Linked DNA regions of Homo sapiens: region 1 is linked to region 2. Evidence: fine-mapped expression QTL. Tissue or cell type: lung. Region 2 holds a variant in brackets; the other region holds the start of a gene. All regions are shown on one strand. Distances are from middle to middle. Region 1 holds the start of TMEM132C (transmembrane protein 132C). Region 2 overlaps TMEM132C (transmembrane protein 132C).

Region 1 (5,372 bases), 20 kb after region 2:
CACCGCCCTTCCACTTGCTTTATACAGGCGCAATACATCAACCTCTAATTCAAGGATGTTTTGCCTCTCCTGCCTCGGCCCAAGTCTTAAATCTTAGGAAAAGATTTCTTTCTTTCAATGCCCTGTCCTATTTATGGAACCTCCCAAGAACAATTCTGCCTTTTCCGAACCCTGACAAATTGCAAAGCCTCTAAATCCACAGTCAAAAATAAACAGACAATTGGTATTAAAAATTAATCAGTGGTTTCAAGGATTCCAGAAATCAGCACTTAAATCCGTGTGCAGGAAGAGACAGAGATGGCTTTTTTTTTTTAAAGACAGCAGAAATGTAAACAAGGTCAGCAAACTTTCCTCTCTAGAAGATATCTTACGGTGCAAACGCTTTACGTGTGGAGGAATCCGAGGGGGGAATGAACTGCTGCTTTTGATCATGAGAAACAAACGGAAAATGTATTTTGCAGATGATAAGTTGCAGGCCCTTATGCACCCCCAAATCACGTGGTGAACTTTGTAAAGCAAAAAGCAGGGAAAGAAAGCCCCATCAAATCAAGGTTGCACTTAGCTAGAGGGCAGAGGCGGTTTGGGATAGGGGTGGGGCTTCGCTACGTCCCTAGTTTTCAGCACTTTCCCTTGTTGTGCAAATATCAGCTTCAAATCCAGTCCCAGTTGCCTTTCCAGCCAAATCACTGCCCCCAGCACTGAACACATGGACATCTGTAACAGCCACTCTCGTAATCAAAAGTAAAATCCTCTGGATACACACACACACACACACACACACACACACGGAATGTGAGCCTTAATGAAGAACAGTCCACACTTGCTTTAAAGGGAACATCCAGTTCGCCTGGTTAAATTCTCTCAAGGGCAAGGGGTGAAAACCCGGAGGAGGTCGGTCACGCCCTGCTCAATTAGCACCGCCTTCCTCTGCAAAGTGCTTTACTACCCATTCAGTCATTTTATCAACAAAAAACTGCTGGGAGGTAGGTTGGGAAGGGAATTCTTCAATGGCCACTTTGCATCTAGGAAAACTGAATCCTAGAAACGCTGGAACCTAGAGCTAATTAACAGCAGAATTCAGGCACCAGATCGTGACTGTTGACTCTTTCAAATAAAATAGAAAAGTGCCCCCCTCTCCTACTCCTCCACCCCCGACTTGCCCCCCCTTTCCCTCGTCTCTCACCCCCTTTCCCCCCTCTCTCGCCCCACCCTCTCTTTCCCTCTTCTCTCACTCCTTCTTCCCCCCCCTCTCTCACCCCACCCTCCTCCCTACCTGGAGCTCTTGGAAGAAAGGAACACTTATATAAAACATAGCAAACTTGTCTGGTTGGTGTATCTGGGAAAGCGCAGCCTCAAGGAAAGTAGATTTTTCTGGATTTTCAGGCGGTGCAGAATGACTTTTGAAAAGCAAACGCTACTTTTAAACCTCCATTGACAACTTGTCTCTCTGAACGCATTTCTAGCTCAGCCTCAGAGCATTAGGCGGGAGAAGGGTGGCTTTGAGTGTTCTCTGCTCAGAGCCTGGGGCCGATACTGGACCCGCGGCGCCGCGCGAAGGCTCAGGGCACCCATGTGCGCACCTCCGTTTAACCAAATGAACCCGAGACCTTCGCCAGGGCGCGGGGAGCAGGAAAGCGACGCTCTCCTTTTTCTACGCCCTGGGCGCGCCCCGGGACTCGGGCAGCTGCTGCCCTGGCAGAGCCTAGGCCTTGCTCCCCGCCTGCCCCGCGGCTCCTGGGGCTGGAGACCGCCTCTCCCCGCCCTTCCCGCCGCCGCATCCGCGCGGCCACTCGGCCGCACACGCACATAATAAAAAAGGTCGGAAAAACCACACGGCTACCTTTCGTGAGCCCTGCGGGCGCCATACGTTAACTCCTTTAAATTCCTCCAACCCAAAGCAGGGCCGTCACTCCCATTGTAGAGAAGAGGACACTGAGGTGAAGGAGCCCCGGACAGGACCGCTGGTGAGGTAGTTCCCGTCGCGAGGGACGCACCCACCTCCCCATCCGCGCTCCCCCACCGCAAAGGACTCATTTGAGAGAACCCGCAGAGAGCCCCTGGTTTCTGCCAAGCTGGGGTCCCTGGTGAGCTGCGCGATGAGTGAGCGTTCCTCTAGGGCCCGCACAGAGACCCTAGCGGTTGCGGAAAGGGGATGCAAAGAACCGGGCCTTCCCTCCTGGAGCACCAGCCCCACAGTGCCGAAGCTGTGGATGGGGAGCTGTGGACAGGGAGCACACAGCCGGGAGGAAGGAGCGCACAGAGCGGAGCACCTCTCCTGGATGCCAGTTCCACAGGGTGACTGTGCTGGGGCTGGGGCAGGTCCGCACGGAACTCAGGGATGGGGAACAAACACCGTGTCCCTCAGCCACGCCCCCTCCTCATCCGCGGGGCAGCTCTGGGTCTGGGGGGTCCGGGGTGGGAGATTCGGGACTCGGGACCAGCCTAACTTGCCCGGATCCCGGCGCCCAGCTGGGAGCGCCCTTCTGGATTAGGGGCGGCTCGGCACCCGCAGAGGCGCTGTTGATGGGATCCGAGCCCCCGCCGAGGCCCCCGCCGCACCCCTCGCTTCGGCTGCCCTCACCCCGAGCTCCCCCGGAACCGGGAAGTTCGCATGCGTCGGCGCGCCAGGCACCCGCCCCGGCCTTACCTTTGCCCAGCAGCGCGCCCAGCAGCAGGCTCAGCGCCCCGCACAGCGGCGCCGCCGGCCCGGGGGCCGCACCCTCGGAGCGCATCCTGCGTCCCGGCCGCTCACGCAGCCCGCCGCCAGCCCGAAGCGCAGCGCCCGCCCGCGGCCCCCGCCGGCCGCCCCATGCCCGGGGCCACTCCCGCAGCCCGGTCGGCCGGGCCCGCTGCGTCTCTGCTGTCCGAGGCCCGCCCCTGCCGGGTCCACGCCGCCGCAGCTCCGGCTCTGGCTCTGGCGGCTCCGGCTCCGCCGCTGCTCGCGCTCCGGCCGGGACAACTTTTCTCCCGCAGCCTCCGCAGCCTCCGCAGCCGCCGGCCCGCCCCGCCCCCGGCCCCGCCCCCGCCCCCGCCCGGGCCCCGCCCCCGCCGAGCCCCGCGACCGCGGACAGATTGAGGGTGCGGTAGGAGAGAGTTCGCCTGCCCGCCGGGAGGGGCGGCAGATGGAGAACCCCCCCGCCCGGGCTAGGGAGGGTGTGCCCGGGAAAGAAGACCGGGAGAGGAGGGGGCGTCTCCCCAGGCGGCTGGGACGGCTCCTCCGGGGGTCCGCGCCTTTCCAGAGAAACTCAGCGTTCGCAGACTCCTGCCCGGGTGCCCAACGGACAGCGGCCCGTGGCCCGGAGGGTCCTGCCCAGGGACCCGACGCTCAAGGCGGAGCTGGACTCCTTCTCCCCACCCTCCCGTGGTCACTGCGGGACCTGGTGGTCGTCACGCCCCATTCCTCAACTTCAGGTGGCCGCTGCTTTAGCCTGGAGGGCTGGGGACATCTGGAATGCAAAGTCCCGCGCAGCTGCTGCGGGGAGAGCTCCTAACTGGATCACTGAGCGCGGAAAAGCAGCGCGCAGCGGAGCGTGAAGGCGGGGTGCGGGCTCAAGACAGATGCGGGTGTGCACCTGTGCGTGTGCGGAGGGGGCGAGGCACGAGATCACAGCGGTGTCTCTGGGAAGGGGACGAGAACGCAGAGGGGAAGAAAGGATCATTTTTCACTGCATGTCTGTGGGGCTTCCACTCCCCAATCATCTCCCCGCCGCCCATAGCATGTGTTTTATTATCTTTTCAGTGGGTGGAGAATAGCCCCTCTCTAGACTTGCTCCTGCAATAGGCAATTTCTCTGCAGACTCAGACAAGGAAGATCCGCCCTCCCCCCCCCCCCCCCGACTTCGTTCTCTCTATCTTTTCCCTCTGATTTCTCCAGGGCTGGCCTCCCTCATGGTGGTGATCCCAGGTGATCTCAGCGGCTTCCCTGTGCGGTTCCTGATGCTCATGCTCTGCTCTTTCTGCCACGCGTGGTCTGAGCAGTTTGAGGGCGGGACCCCGACTCCCCCCTTGTGACTGGGAATGAAGGGCCATGGGTTCGGAGGTCTCTGGACGTCCCCTCCTGTCCTGAGCTCCTCACCACGGGCTCAGCATCCCCTCTCACCGTGGGCTGGCTCGGTCCAACATCAAAAGGAAGCCTGAGGGGTCTTTTCTCACCATCAGTGCAGGAAAGAATTTCAAAAGAAAAAAAGAAGTCCTTGATTGAAAGAAAAGAAATGTAAACGAATGATCCCCAGCAACTGCAACCCCAAGTCTTATCTCCCAACTCAGCCCCTAAGGAATGAGCCAGGCATAAGGAGAAATTGGGGCGGGGTGGGGCGAAGGCTTTGCAGGGCACTGGCCAGAGTGGGAGGCTCTCTCCTGGGGTGGGGCCCGGAAGTCTGGGCCAGGCTGGGGGGAGATGTCTCCCTGGTTTTCTTGGCCGGCTCTACTCACATGATGTGAGGAGAAGGCAGCTTGAAAACTATCCAGGCCCCAAAGGGAACGGTAAAAGCTTGATTCTCATAGGCCTGGATAGCAGAGACTTGATTTTTAAAGTGGATTATGCTGATAATCGCCCAATTCTTCAGTACATTCAGCTAGTGTAGACCTGACCTTGGGGGCAGGGGGCAGTTGTAAAGTAGATTTGGGCTCCTAAAACGGAAGGTACGTTTTATTCTCAGTGCTTTGAGCCTGAACATCACCGGGGAATAATTTTTTTTTCATTTAAATGTTCCCAGCATGAGGGAGAAATACACATGTCCCATTGTTTGTAACTGAGGATGGGAATCTGCCTTATCCTCTCTCCTCCCTATTGGATAACAGGGACAAAAAATAAAAACCCAAAGAAGTGCCCTCCACTCCCCTGTTCTATGCAGCCTCATAATGTACCTTCTTTCCACATCATTTCTTTCCTTTTGGCACAGAACATTGCTGTCCCTACTGCAAAGACAAGTCAGGTCCTGGACTACATCTCTGTGATGCAAATAATCAAAACCAGGGGCTACCAAACAAGCCACAGCAAAATAAATACTAATTCAACATGGGGTTGGAGTGGGGAAAGGATTCTCAATCAGATAAGCTCACTGCACAGCACCCCAAAGGCAGCCACTGTCTTCAGGTGATCCTGAATCACAGATGCCCCTTGAGACTATGATGCCTCCGGGCATCCCCTGTGAGAGCCTTCAGGAGACCCAGCAAATGAAAGCTTCTCTGCAAACCTTCCTTTAGGACTCCATTTAATCTATTGCGTGTCCCTCTCAAGAGCAGTCAAACAAACATGCACACAAAACTGAACAAACAAATAAAACAGATGATATAGTCAATTTCTCTTTCATAGGTAAATCCACAAAAATTGAGGTTCATGGGCTAATAAAGTTTTCTGTATTTATTTTTTT
Region 2 (5,372 bases):
ATGAGATAATTTGAGGTGAAACATAGGACCTTTAAACATGCTATCAGTTATGTATTTAGCTTGATGTTTTGGGGAAAATGCAATTAGTATGTAAAACAGTGACTTTCATGGAAATGATTGCTTAGGGCAAAGCTCAGATTAAAAGACTTGAAATAGAGAAAAGCTGTTGTTAAGTAAATGGAAGTGCAGATGATACCAATATAGGCCAAAAATTATTGAGAATCATATAGGGCAGACTGCAAATTAGAAAATGCTGATTTAAAAGTTACCAGCAATTTTCTGTCTTTGAAGATGGGGACGTTAAATACACCTCTTGGGCCTACTTTCTTTCAGAATATTCTCCAAAATGTGTTGTGAGTGTGTGTGCTTGCATGTGTTTTCAGCTGCACCCCTATAAACCAGGTACGCCGTGTTCTTGGAGAAAACTGTAAAGTTACCATTAACTCTAATGAAGATATTCACTGTTTTGGTTAGTCACGCAAATAGATGTACTAACAGGACTGTGCCCCACGGAGTTAGGGACATTTTTAAATTCCTAAATCTGGATTTAGATTCCCTTGTTCTTAAAAACTAACGGCTAGTCACAAGGCTGCATTCACGTATGTGTGTCTGTGTGTGTGTGCGCACATGAGCATGTGTGCGTGTGTATAAGTGTGCATGTATGTTAACATGTGAGAGGGTGTGTATAGGTGCATATGCGCATTAATGAACAAGTGAGAGTATGCAGGTGTATGTGTGTGAGTGCATGCGTATGAGCGTGCATGTATGCATTACAGTGTGTGTTAGCGAGCATATGTATTTGTGCACGTGTGGGCACACATGTGAATGAACGTGCATGTGTGTTCATGAGTGTGTGAATGTGTGGGAGGTGCATGTGTGAATGTGAGTGTGCATGTGTGCGCTAATGAGCATGAGCGTGTGAGCACATGCATGCGTGTGTGAATGTGTGACTGTGTGGGGGGCGGTGCACACATGCAGGCCTGTATGTCTAAGCATCTTCTCCGGGGCAGTAAAAGCCAAGAAGAGCTGGCTGTCCTGGGGAAATCAAGGGAAGGAGGGGAAAGCAAGAAGATGTGAATTTCCCTCAGCCCTCACTGAAGGGAAGGTTGTAAAAGAAAAGGGCTTATTTAGCCTGTGACTGTGACACTCAGGTACAACAGCATGTGCCAGACTTCAGAGACTACAGTGGGTTTGACCCATGAATATATAAGAGTGCCAGCCTCCACAGTGACATGGGGCCCCTGTTGTCCCTCACCGTTCAGAAAGTCCTGTTGAAATTCCCACCAGCTCTGTGTCATGCTGGGGGAGCTGGGAGCCTGATCTCCTCCCCTAGTGCTGCCTGGGAGACAGCTGTGCCCATGTGGCTGTCCCAGGGAAAACTCAGTGGCAGAACTCTACTAGATAAAGAGGCAGGGCCAGAAGAAACCACTCACGCCAGAACAGGACAGCCCAGACCCAGCTGCAGGGGAGGGAAGGAGAGGAGGGTGTCCTACTCAGAGGCAGAGGGCTTCTGAGCCCTTCAGCCACAATAATGGGGACATTAAAAGTAAGAGAGGGCTGGGCGTGGTGTCTCACGCCTGTAATCCTAGCACTTTGGGAGGCCGAGGCAGGCGGATTACCTGAGGTAGGGAGTTTGAGACCAGCCTGACCAACATGGAGAAACCCCATCTCCACTAAAAATACAAAATTAGCTGGGCGTGGTGGCACATGCCTGTAATCCCAGCTACTCAGGAGGCTGGGGCAGGAGAATCATTTGAACCCGGGAGGCAGAGGTCGCGGTGAGCCGAGAGCACGCCATTGCCCTCCAGCCTGGGCAACAAGAGCAAAACTCCATCTCAGAAAAAAAAAAAAAAAAAAGTAAGAGAGGATCCTGCAGGGATAACTGTGGACAACAGTGATATTAAGACTGCACCAAACACACAATCATCCCAATTCAGAACTCAATGTCCGGAAGGGCTAGATCAATTCGAAATGAATGCAGCTATTACCTCCAAATCAACACGGATCAAATTGAGGGACATTCTTCTAAAAAACCTGGCCTGTACTCTTCAAACACGTCAGAGTTATGAAGACAAAAAAAGGCTGAGAAATTGTTTCTGATAAAAAAACACAAAGAGACATTACAAGGAAGCACAGCATGAGATGCTGGACCAACAGAAAAAATCAGTTTTCTTTGGCTTTAAATAACAGTAATGGAATAACTGGAAACATTCGAATAAAGGAGGCAGATACATAATAGTACCATAGCAATGCCATTTTACTTTGACCAATGTGATTATATCAGAGAATTGCCTTATTTTAAGGAATACACATGATAGAGGTATAATGTGTGTAACTTACTAATAATTAATTCAGAAAAATTGCACCTAGAGACACACACACAGATAGATATAGATATAGATATAGATATAGATATAGATATAGATATGCAGACAGAGGGGGAGAGAGAGAGAAACATTCAGACAAAGCTATTAAGAAAAATACTGATAAACAAACCTGGTAAATGTTAATTTGGAGGAATCTAGGTGAAAAGTATGTAAGACTCTTTGTACTATTTTTGCAACTTTTCTGAAAGCCTAAAATTATTTCCTAGTAAAAAGTTTAAGACAATATTTTGATGCAGGAAGTACTTTATACAGAGTGGGCAGGATTTAAACCAGAGGTTCTCA[A/G]TGCACCCAAGGGACATTTGGCAATGGCTGGAGACATTTTTGGTTGTCATAACTGTGTGGGCAGGGAAAATGCTGCTGGCATCTAGCCCTGCACAGGACACTCCCCCACCCCAGCAATAAACAATAATCTTGCCCAACATGTCAACAGTGCTGAGGCTGAGAAACTCTGACTGCAAAACTTAAAGGAGAAGGAACAAGATTTCTCACAGACATGATCACAAGTAGTGCTGGCAAAACCGCTGCCCTTCTTGGAAAAGCAGCATCATTTGGCAGAGATAACATAGTTTTTCTTCGTCTTCTTTCTCTTATTCTCTTGACCAACATCTTTACTCTTTCTACCCCTCTCTCTCAAGTTTTCCAGGATCCTGTTCAATGGACAATAATCTCACGTGCCCGGCACTCCCTCTCTCCCTTCTTCTGGTACCAACACGTCCCTTCTTCTGGGAAGGGATCTCAAAACTCCAGCTGCATGGACTGGATGGGAACTTCAATGTCTGTGTGGATCTTGCTGCTTTGGCCTCAGGTGACTGTGTGCCCAAACTGAGCCACTTCTAGTATCTCATCCTTTCCATCAAAGTTCAGTGGTCAAAGGCAGAAATGAAAAATGGTCCTGAGGTCATAACCTAGACTATTTGTCCCACACAGCATTTAACAATTTTTTATTTTGCTGTCCACACTTGAAAGCTGCCATTTCATATTTAAATATCCTTATTTCCCGGTTTATGTAAATCAATAAGGCTTAGGAATTATTCTGCCCACACCCACTACTGTCTATGGGGGCCAGAGCTACTCTCACCTGCTGTCACCATGTGGGAGTGGCCCTGGCCTCACAAACTGAGCATCATATTCCCGTTCATCATAGCCCAATCAATGTGCTTCACTCCTGTCTAAGCAGGGGCCCTGGAGGCATTTGAGTTTGTAAGCCTGCATCCAGGAGTGGGCACATTCCACCAAGCAAGGCAGAGTCGTTTCCTGAAATGTTCACGTATAAGCTAAGGGAAGCAAAGACCTTCCTGAGAACTGAAGTCCAGGAGCTCTCAGAGGCCACATTTCCCATAATGTAGAAAATCCAAATGAGAGAATGAAGCCTCCATGAAAGCATGCGTGTGTGTGAAGGAGGCAGAGAGAGAGAGAGAAAGGGAGAGAGGGATAGAGATGGGGAGAGAGAGAGAGAGAGAGAGGAAGGGAGAGAGGGATAGAGGTGGGGAGAGAAAGAGAGAAAGGGAGAGAGGGATAGAGATGGGGAGAGAGAGAAAGAGAGAAAGGGAGAGAGAGATAGAGATGGGGAGAGAGAGAAAGAGAGAAAGGGAGAGAGGGATAGAGATGGGGAGAGAGAGAAAGAGAGAAAGGGAGAGAGGGATAGAGATGGGGAGAGAGAGAAAGAGAGAAAGGGAGAGAGGGATAGAGATGGGGAGAGAGAGAAAGAGAGAAAGGGAGAGAGGGATAGAGATGGGGAGAGAGAGAGAGAGAGAGAAAGAGAGAAAGGGAGAGAGGGATAGAGATGGGGAGAGAGAGAGAGAGAAAGAGAGAAAGGGACAGAGGGATAGAGATGGGGAGAGAGAGATGGGGGCGAGGGGAGGGAGAGGGAGAGAGAGAGAGAGAGAGAATGAATATGTCCTTGACGCCCTATTCAAATCCCAGTGAACCCCTGGGTCCGGCTGGTTCCTCTCCTCTTTTAGTCAATCTTTCCTTGGCTTGCCTGTCTGTAAAAGTTCCTCTGCTGCCTACACTGGTGTTAACCTGTTACTTGTGTTTAAGAGTCTAATGTTCTTCCCTGGCAACGACATTAAGCTCTTTAATCTTTTAAAAGCTGGTGATAAGATAATTTTATTTATTTACTAAAATGTCTTTTTTTTTGTTTTCATTCCTATTTGTAATTAAAACACAATAATTGTACATATGCATGGGGTACAATATGATATTCTGATAAATGTACAAAATGTGTAATGATTAAATCAGAGTAATTGCATATCAATCACCTCAAATACCATTTTTGTTGAAAACATTCAAAATCTGTTCTTCTAGGTATTTGAAAATATACAATAAATTGTTGTTCATCATAGTCACCCTGCAGTGCTGGAACTTATCCCTCCTACCTCACTAAACAGGGTCTTGTTCTGTCTCCCATGCTGGAGTGCAGTGGTGCAATCTTGGCTCACTTCAACCTCCACCTCTGAAGGTCAACAATCCTCCTACCTCAGTCTCCCAAGTAGCTGGGACTAAAGGCACTCACCACCACGCCCAGCTAATTTTTTGTGTTTATTTTTTGGGGTAGAGCTGGGTTCTCACCACATTGCCTAGGCTGGTCTTGAACTCCTGGGCTCAAGCAATCCTTCCACCTCAGCCTTCCGAAGTACTGGGATTACAGGCATGAGACACCATGCTGGCTGTCTTCTACTCTTTACTTCTATTCTATGAGATACCATAGCCTTAGAAAGGGTTATTATTATTAAAATGATAATTTATCCCAAATTCATCTATATCATTTTCTTATTTTACATAATTCCAATTAACTTAAGCCACTGACTTTTAATGTTACTATATGTTTAACTGCTATAGGTAGAAATTGTCTTATTTATGTGGGCTAGAGTTACACGGGAAGTCTAATCTGTGCATAGAAGAGGCACTCTGCTAACCTTTCACCATTATTTCTTACAGGAAACCTCTTGCCATTATTTCTTACAGGAAAGCTGGCTTAGATTG

The links. PIP is the estimated chance that this variant, and not a neighbour inherited with it, causes the effect.
Region 1: TMEM132C starts here. The variant in region 2 is the best candidate, but not a certain one, in a credible set for the expression of TMEM132C in lung (TOPMed, PIP 0.58).

Annotation. Positions count from the first base shown.
Region 1 is chr12:128,264,763-128,270,134 of GRCh38, reverse strand. It overlaps TMEM132C (transmembrane protein 132C), which reads right to left and starts at 2,965. Exons shown (of 9, transcript NM_001136103.3): 1 at 2,648-2,965. The coding sequence starts at 2,732. LOC107987176 (a long non-coding RNA gene) reads left to right here and starts at 3,103. Exons shown (of 2, transcript XR_001749176.1): 1 at 3,103-3,564. RefSeq lists enhancers at 1,924-2,762, 3,298-3,819.
Region 2 is chr12:128,284,541-128,289,912 of GRCh38, reverse strand. The region is part of intron 1 of TMEM132C (transmembrane protein 132C); the gene reads right to left. Among named protein-coding and RNA genes, the nearest start is that of MIR3612, 6.9 kb to the left of the region's middle. The variant A/G (reference allele first, on the strand shown) is at 2,670.